Regions from separate parts of the Homo sapiens genome. Here all the other regions are linked to region 3. Evidence: fine-mapped expression QTL. A gene starts in region 3. Each other region holds a variant in brackets. All regions are shown on one strand. Distances are between the middles of the regions. Region 1 overlaps SMAP1 (small ArfGAP 1). Region 2 overlaps B3GAT2 (beta-1,3-glucuronyltransferase 2). Region 3 holds the start of B3GAT2 (beta-1,3-glucuronyltransferase 2).

Region 1 (2,762 bases), 98 kb before region 3:
CAAGCACCAGCTGCATTTCAGGGCTTTCCATCGATGGGCGTGCCTGTGCCTGCAGCTCCTGGCCTTATAGGAAATGTGATGGGACAGAGTCCAAGCATGATGGTGGGCATGCCCATGCCCAATGGGTTTATGGGAAATGCACAAACTGGTGTGATGCCACTTCCTCAGAACGTTGTTGGCCCCCAAGGAGGAATGGTGGGACAAATGGGTGCACCCCAGAGTAAGTTTGGCCTGCCGCAAGCTCAGCAGCCCCAGTGGAGCCTCTCACAGGTAGGGGTCATTTACTTTCTAGCTTCTCCCAAATCAAACCAGATTTATTTTCTAAATCTTTTTTTTTTTTTTTTTTTTTTTTTTTTAAGTCTAGTGATCTGGCAGAAAGAATTCAATAGGGATAATATGTTATAGGGTCAAAAGTATCTATAAATATTATGAAGTTGTATCAGATAGACAAATGATGTGTTATTATCGCTATTTTAGAGTATTCTGTAAAAAAAAGGTTAAACATCTTTCATTTCAAATTGTAATGTAACTGTAACGTGAACACCACTAATGGCCAGAAATTATCTCAGGCATCATGAGACTCCCTCTCTGTCACCTCTGAGATTAGCACTAAGCTTTATCCAGCTTGCTGGTGGGACATTTTTACAGTCCACTTAGACAACTTAGCTTCACTAATAATTTTAGGATCTTTTATTAGAAAATAAAAATCTAGCCTCATATTCTCAAAGCACTATTTTATGAGGGATCTAAGGCTATTTTTCAGGTCGGATGATTACTGCCCCATGGCTCTGTAAAAATTCTTTTTGTTGAGAAACCTTTGTAAAGTTGTATTTTCTTTTTACATACCCTATAATGACTTTTATGTTTAAAAAGAGTACAAAAAGATTCAATTCCCATAAGGTGTGAACCAGACATCCCCTCATATTATAAAATCCTATTTCTACCTAAGTTAGAGCTGAGATAGAACATTTCTATTTCAGGTGCTGTGTTCTGACTTTTCTCTAGCTGCACAGACAAAGGCTCTTAGAGAGGTTCATGCTCCCACTCTTCTTCCTTTTACACTTCCCATTGATGTTCCTCCAGCATTTTGGCAATCTTGGTTTCTGTTTGGTCACTTGTTTTACCTTTAGAGCATTCAGGGAATAGTCTAGAGTGATTTCTAACATTAGCACAATCACTATATATCACAGTTAATTTTGCTACCACCATTTACAAGAATATAGGTAAAACATTGGTCTCTACCCGCTGGGAATCTAAAAAATTGTATGTGCTAAGTGTCAGTCACATGGTCAACATGCTGAAGCACACCCAGCTCAGGTTAAGGTGCTAGATGAACCAGGAAGGAGTTAATACTGGCTCTTACTTCCAGATAATGCAGAAGGGTGATGCTGTTCTCCAGCACTCCATCAGTGCAATCTACTGGCCAA[T/C]GACAAGGTGGTTAAAATGTCCTTTAGTAGGTATGAAGACGTGATCTGCTTCTTCAGACACTTATGCCTGATTAGTGATGTAGTTTATGTTAGTGTCTTTGAAACTGTAAATAAGTCAAGTCAAATGTATTAAATTAAGAACACAGTCTAACTCTGAGTGTAAGTTTTAAACCCACTCACTATATGGTAAATCTTGCCTTTCCTTCTCTTATCACCAATTTTGGAAGTAAGAGAATCACAGGGTTAAGATGCTTATATATATATATATTTGACTCCAGTCTTGAAGAAAAATACATGTAATCTTATGCTTTATTGCATACAATGAAAATAAATTTTAGATGTTTATGTTGTTAGATCAGCGAGAGAAATAAATGCTTTATGACCACTTTAAAAATATTTAGGAAGTATATAAGATTTTAATAGAGAATAATATCTATCATACAAAGTTTATAGGATAATTTTAGACTATTTTACTTCCTAAAATTTTCTTACTCCTTAGTAGTTAAAGCACAATATCCTAGTGTAGGTGAAAGTTAGTTAGAGTAGCGGACTCATTAAAATCCCAAGATTGCTTTGGTATTTTTTTTTAAGTAAGTTGTGGTTAATCTTTGGGGAAACTGTATCTAGAAAGTAGATAAAGAAGGGAACAAAGTAGCTATTTGCTTTAAGAAATATTTGTATGGTACTCTGTTTTTATTCCAGTGCTTGGACTAGTTGTCACATTAATGAAAAAATGACCAACTGTGTGGCTAAAGAAACAAGAATTAAAAGTGAAGTAAGCCTCTTGAACTAAGCCTTTTATATGTTTCACAGATGAATCAGCAGATGGCTGGCATGAGTATCAGTAGTGCAACCCCTACTGCAGGTTTTGGCCAGCCCTCCAGCACAACAGCAGGATGGTCTGGAAGCTCATCAGGTCAGACTCTCAGCACACAACTGTGGAAATGAAAACTGCAATACAAGTTTCATCCAGAACTACCACCTGACATTCCTTGCTGAAACGCATCTAGTTCCCCTGTTTATTCATATGCATATTTTTTTTCTTTTTACCCATTTGTTCATATTAAGAATGATCTGATTGACCGTGTTGGTCTGTACTGATTCAATTTGATGTGGTGAAAAGCAGGTTGATAAATCATTTTATGTCAAGGGCAGCTTTGCTCATATTTCCCATGATTTCATGTACTGCATTATTTGAGAAGCTGCTCAACTTGCAAAATCAGTTTTCCTCTCAATAAAATTATAGCTCTAATGTTTGCATATAAGGGAAGTAGTTATCATGTTAGTAATACCTCTAATAGTATAAACCCCACCCCAAAATTAGCCAGTAATCCT
Region 2 (2,762 bases), 88 kb before region 3:
CCACACACATACACACAACCCTCCAGGACCAGAGAGCTTCACTGGTAAATTCTACCAAGCATTTAAGGAAGAAATGACAGCAATTCTACATGAATTTTTCTAGAAAATAGAAAAGGAGGAAATCTTTCTCAAGTTATCCTGTAAGACCAGCATTGCCCTGATACCAAAACCAGACAAAAACATTACAAGAAAACTACAGACTAATAATCCTCATGATCACAGAAAAATTCTCAAAATTTTAGCAAATCAAATTCAACAATAAAAAGACAATAAATCATGACCACTTGAGGATTATCTCCAGATTGCAATGTTGGTTTAAAATTTCAAAATCAATCAATGTAATTCACCATATTAGCAGACTAAAAAAAAAAATCTGACTATCACAATAGCTGGAGAAAATGCTTTGACAAAATCTAACATCTAGTCATAATGAAAAGAAGAAATAAAAGCCTCTCAGCAAACTAAGACTAGAAGTGAACTTTCTCAACTTAATAAGGACATCTACAAAAATACCTAATGCCAACATTATACTTAATTGGTGAAAGACTGAGTGTTAAATCCCTGAAGATTGGAATGAGGCAAGGATGGCTGCTCTTGACTTTTATTCAACAAAGTCCTGGAGATCCTGGCCATTTAAATAAGGCTCCCACCCCCACAAAAAAGGCAGAAATATTGGAAAGGAAGAAGTACAGCAAGCCTCCTCTTCTTCCTTCAGCCACAGTTAACAGTATCAATAGTGCTTCTCAGTTCTTCTATTGTGTAAGTATCAATTTAGCCTCACCTCCATAGGCTCATCCCACTGCCACATTCTCTCTTCTCCAACTATACATCATCTAATCTCAGCAAGGCTGTTACAAATAAGAACTAGTTCCAGTTTCTAAACGATGACTTTTGGCAACAAGACTTTTATAGTTTGGCCACAAGAAAGATACTAACAGCTTTTTCTGTGTAATAATCACTCTGGGTAGTTGTCCTAGAGTATTGGGCTCTTGACACATGTTTAGTGTTACCAATAGCTATCAGGTAATTTCAAAAGCCTCTCTTTCCCCCCCCACGTTAAACAATAAGAAAAAGAGATTTCAACTTTCATATTAAAAAGTATATACACACAGTGCAGTCATGGAACTTGCTGGAGAAAGAAAGATATGTGTGGGACCTCCTCTAATTCTGAGCCGGCCAACTCTCCTTTCATACCTCTTCCCAGCAAAGCATACACTGCCTTTTGGAATGTTGTGTGTTTCCACCTTTCCTGCCCACCACCCCTCCTTATTGAGATATAATTCACATATATTAAAACTTGTCCTTTTATATGGTATGATTAAGGGCGGTTTTAGCATATTCATAACTCTGGGAACCAATTTTTGAGAAGACTTTTTTTCCCATTGAACTGTCTTAGAACCTTTGGCAAAAATCAACTGACCATAAATGATTTATTTCTACACTGTCAGTTCTATTTCATTAATCTATATGGCTATCCTTATGTCAGTACCACACTGTATTACTGTAGTTTGCTTTCTTTAAGTTGAGACAGGGTCTTCCTATGTTGTCCAGGCTGGTCTCAAACTCCTGGGCTCGAGGGATGCTCCTGCCTCAGCCTCCTGAGTAGCTGGGACTATAAGGTGCATGTCGCTCCATCTGGTGATG[A/G]CATTATTGTAGTTTTATAAGTTTTCAAATTGGGAAGTATAAATCCCCTAACTTCTTTCTGAGTTCATCACTTTCCATATCAATTTTAGAAACAAATACCTTGTCAATTTTTACAAAAAGGGCAGCCAGAATTTTGATAAAGATTGCATTGAATCTGTAGATTAATTGGGGGAATATTGCCATTTTAGCAATATTAAGTCTTCTGACCCATAACAATATTAAGTCTTCTAATCCATGAACATATCTTTCCACTTATTTAGTTCTTCATTTCAGTGATATTTTATAGTTTCCTGTGTAAGTCATACTTTATTACTAAGCATTTTATTATTTCTGACACTATTGTGAATGAAATTTTCTTAGTTTAATTTTCAGATTGTTCATTGCTAGTGTATATAAATACAATTGATTTTCATATATTGATTTTGTATCAATGCAGTCTTGCTAAACTCATTTAATTAGCATTAACAGTTGTGTGTGTTCATCACTGGCCATCAGAGAAATGCAAATCAAAACCACAATGAGATACCATCTCACACCAGTTAGAATGGTGATCATTAAAAAGTCAGGAAACAACAGGTGCTGGAGAGGATGTGGAGAAATAGGAACACTTTTACACTGTTGGTGGGACTGTAAACTAGTAAAACCATTGTGGAAGTCAGTGTGGCGATTCCTCAGGGATCTAGAACTAGAAATACCATTTGACCCAGCCATCCCATTACTGGGTATATACCCAAAGGATTATAAATCATGCTGCTAGAAAGACACATGCACACGTATGTTTATTGCGGCACTATTCACAATAGCAAAGACTTGGAACCAACCCAAATATCCAACAACGATAGACTGGATTAAGAAAATGTGGCACATATACACCATGGAATACTATGCAGCCATCAAAAATGATGAGTTCATGTCCTTTGTAGGGACATGGATGAAGCTGGAAACCATCATTCTCAGCAAACTATCGCAAGGACAAAGAACCAAACACCGCATGTTCTCACTCATAGGTGGGAATTGAACGATGAGAACACATGGACACAGGAAGGGGAACATCACACACCAGGGACTGTTGTGGGGTGGGGGGAGGGGGGAGGGATAGCATTAGGAGATATACCTAA
Region 3 (2,762 bases):
CGGCCAGCGGAGGCTGCGGAGTGCCAGCAAGGAGCGGCTCCACTCGGTGCCCCGAATGCGCGCACGGAGAACTGAGAACTCAAAAGTGCACCCGGAGTGCAAGGGGCGTGTGACTGCAGCCCGGCCGGCCCGGAGGCCCACTCCCGCCCTCGCCCACCCAGCGGGGCAGGCTGGCCTTTACCTCCTGGAAGAGCTCCAGACTATAGGTGTTGTCGTCGTCAGCGAAGAAGAGCACGCCGGGCTGCGCGCGCTGGTGCTGGTGCCTCTGGCGCAGCCAGGCGAGGCCCGCGTTGCGCTGCTCAGTGGCGCGCGGCAGCCCGGGCCGCTTGTAGCGCCGCGGCGTGGGCACGTGCAGGTGAGTGCTGGGCAGCCCGGCCCGCGCCAGGAAGCGGCTCACCAGCTCGCTGCGCGCCGCCGCGTCCTCCACCAGGATCCAGTGCAGCTGCGCCACCTGGCGGAACGTGTTGGCCAGGCGGGTCAGCTCCGCTTTCTGCACCGGGCGGCTGTAGGTGGGCGTGATGGCATAGATGGTGGGCAGCTGCGGCTCCGGCTGTGGCTGCGGCCGAGACTGGTTGCGCTTTTGGGTCCCGTGAGCCGGGCCGCCCCTGCGGAGCGGGAGTCGGGCGCCCCCGCGGCCCACCGCGTAGGGAGAGAAGTAGGGGCGCGGGGTGAGCGGGGGCACTGGCCTGCGCGTGTCCACGTCGAGCATGATGATGACAATTAGGATCCAGGGCAGGAGGATAAAGAAGCGGGTGAAAAGCGCGGACTTCATGGTGCACGCTCCCTGGCCTCTCGGACACCCCAGAGAGGGGCGAGCCGAGGGACCCCAGTGCGCAGCTTGGACAGCGGCGGCGCCAGCACTTAGGGAGTGGTGATGGGTGCGCTGTCCATGGGGCCGAGGGCGCTGCAGAGACCTGGAGCCGCGGGGCTCACTACCTGGGCGTGGAGGAGCGGCAGGTTCGCGCAAGCTAGAGCGACAAGGGGTGCAGGCGGGCGGGCAGGGGCTGCCCCCGACTCCAGGTGAGCTGGCGGGAAGCGGGACTCGGTCCAGCCGCGCGCCGCCGGTCCCGGAGTTGTGCCGAGTGCGGGAAAGGCGCTGATCCCCACCGCGCTCTTTCTGAAGAGTGGAAGCCGAGAAGCGGCACCCGGTGCGCCTCGCCGCTCCAGTCCGGCGGTGCTGCGGGCACAAGGGCTCCAGCCGCGGGCCCCCAGGACGCTCTCTGGGACGCCTTCGAGGGCGGGCGGCGGCGCTGGGGGCTTTCCTTCCTCACATTCCCGCCGGGGTGGCGAGGAGCGGGTGGAGACGCTGGGGGTTGTGTCCCGGCTGTGTTCGCGCGCCGCAGCGGAAGCCTGCTCTCAGTCCCTTGCTCTTGTCTTCTCAGAACCTCTCCGGATCCAGCAGCAAGATCCCAAAGCAAGGAAAGAAAGAAAAAGCGAGGGGGCGGGGGCGCTGCAGAATCCAGCGTCCTCCCAAGTCCTCCTGTGGGAAGACAGCAGCGCTGCTACTGGTGGAGAGGGGCTGCGAGAGGGAGGCGCGGAGGGACCCCTTGGCTCTCCGCCGGGTCTGGCGCTAACGGCCCCGCGAGCAAGCTCGGGAGGCGGCCGCTGCACCGCGGGTGGAGGAGCGGGAGGAGCGTCCCCGCGGGGCTGCACGACCTCCTGGAGGGGGTGATGCTCGTTCACCTCTCTTCAGCTTTGTGAAATACCGCAAGGTCTTTGGAGATGAGCCAGGAAAATCCATTCACGTGCGGAAATTTGCCGGGCTACGCGCGTTGCTGCTGATGCCTAGGGTTCGGAGTGAAAGGAGGGGAGAAAGCGAAGGGATTCCTCCTCCTGCTCCCAGCTGCTGCGTTGATGTGCTGGGGTGTATCGAACAGCGGCAACAAAAAGCGCTTTCACTGCAAGGCAGACATCAATAGGAGCCCACGGAGATGGAGGGGTGCTGCACATAGGTGTTTGGCATGTGAGACAGTCCATAAGAAAGAATCAATTCGGAGGGCTGCTGCCTGACTGCAGTTTGATCATGGCGGGTGGGGGCGGGTGGAATTCCTAAAACTCCAGCCGAGCATGTTTAACTTATTTTTCTTCAGTAATTTGGAGTCACGGTCCCTCCCAGTTCTTCGCTGTCACCGGAATTACTCCGTTTGGCTCTCCCAAGGCTCCTGTCAAGAAGGCCTAAGAAGTAGAATGGCCTTCATTTTCAGGATAAGGAAGCTGAGGTTCAGGGTTTAAAATGATTTCTCTGAGGTCAGTGGCAAGTGGCATATGGAAATAGAACGTGGGTCTCCTGCGTGTGTCTATAGCTAGTGGCGTCCTCACTGCATGGCCTGCAGAAATCCCACCCAACACAGCCGGGCCGGTTTGGCCTTCCTACATATAAAGATGGTGCGATTGAAATCAAACAGAGTGTACCATGACGAATAGAACCATGATAGGGTCTGGAAGACCCCAAGTAAACAGTTGGCACTTAGTTTAGACACTTTTTGCTGTCTAGCTGGCCTACTAGCTGAGTGCCTGACCTTCTGTAACTTACCAGGAAGAAGGGCTGTGCTTCCCAGGCAGGTCCCAGGGAAGTGCTTGCAAAGCAGAAGGAAAGCTCCAGACTGTTCTGCCCTAGCCTATGATAAATAATTTCTGAGCCCATCTTGTCTGGGTTGTCTGCCTTTCTCGGGCTTGTTCACAAATAAATCTCTCTCCGACTGTGCGTTCTGGTGCAACTGAGAGCTCTGGGGCGAATGGCTCTCCAGCTTTTCTGACAGCTC

The links. PIP is the estimated chance that this variant, and not a neighbour inherited with it, causes the effect.
Region 1: its variant is fine-mapped to the expression of B3GAT2 in pancreas (GTEx, PIP 0.98).
Region 2: its variant is fine-mapped to the expression of B3GAT2 in tibial nerve (GTEx, PIP 0.93).

Annotation. Positions count from the first base shown.
Region 1 is chr6:70,857,960-70,860,721 of GRCh38, forward strand. SMAP1 (small ArfGAP 1) reads left to right here. Exons shown (of 11, transcript NM_001044305.3): 10 at 1-270; 11 at 2,241-2,762. The coding sequence ends at 2,375. B3GAT2 (beta-1,3-glucuronyltransferase 2) reads right to left here. Exons shown (of 4, transcript NM_080742.3): 4 at 1-2,762. Among named protein-coding and RNA genes, the nearest start is that of B3GAT2, 98 kb to the right of the region's middle. The variant T/C (reference allele first, on the strand shown) is at 1,428.
Region 2 is chr6:70,867,675-70,870,436 of GRCh38, forward strand. The region is part of intron 2 of B3GAT2 (beta-1,3-glucuronyltransferase 2); the gene reads right to left. Among named protein-coding and RNA genes, the nearest start is that of B3GAT2, 88 kb to the right of the region's middle. The variant A/G (reference allele first, on the strand shown) is at 1,645.
Region 3 is chr6:70,955,658-70,958,419 of GRCh38, forward strand. B3GAT2 (beta-1,3-glucuronyltransferase 2) reads right to left here and starts at 1,403. Exons shown (of 4, transcript NM_080742.3): 1 at 182-1,403. The coding sequence starts at 772. LOC124901229 reads left to right here and starts at 771. Exons shown (of 2, transcript XM_047419611.1): 1 at 771-871; 2 at 975-2,762. The coding sequence starts at 771. The coding sequence ends at 1,701. RefSeq lists silencers at 1-134, 605-734 and an enhancer at 663-1,178.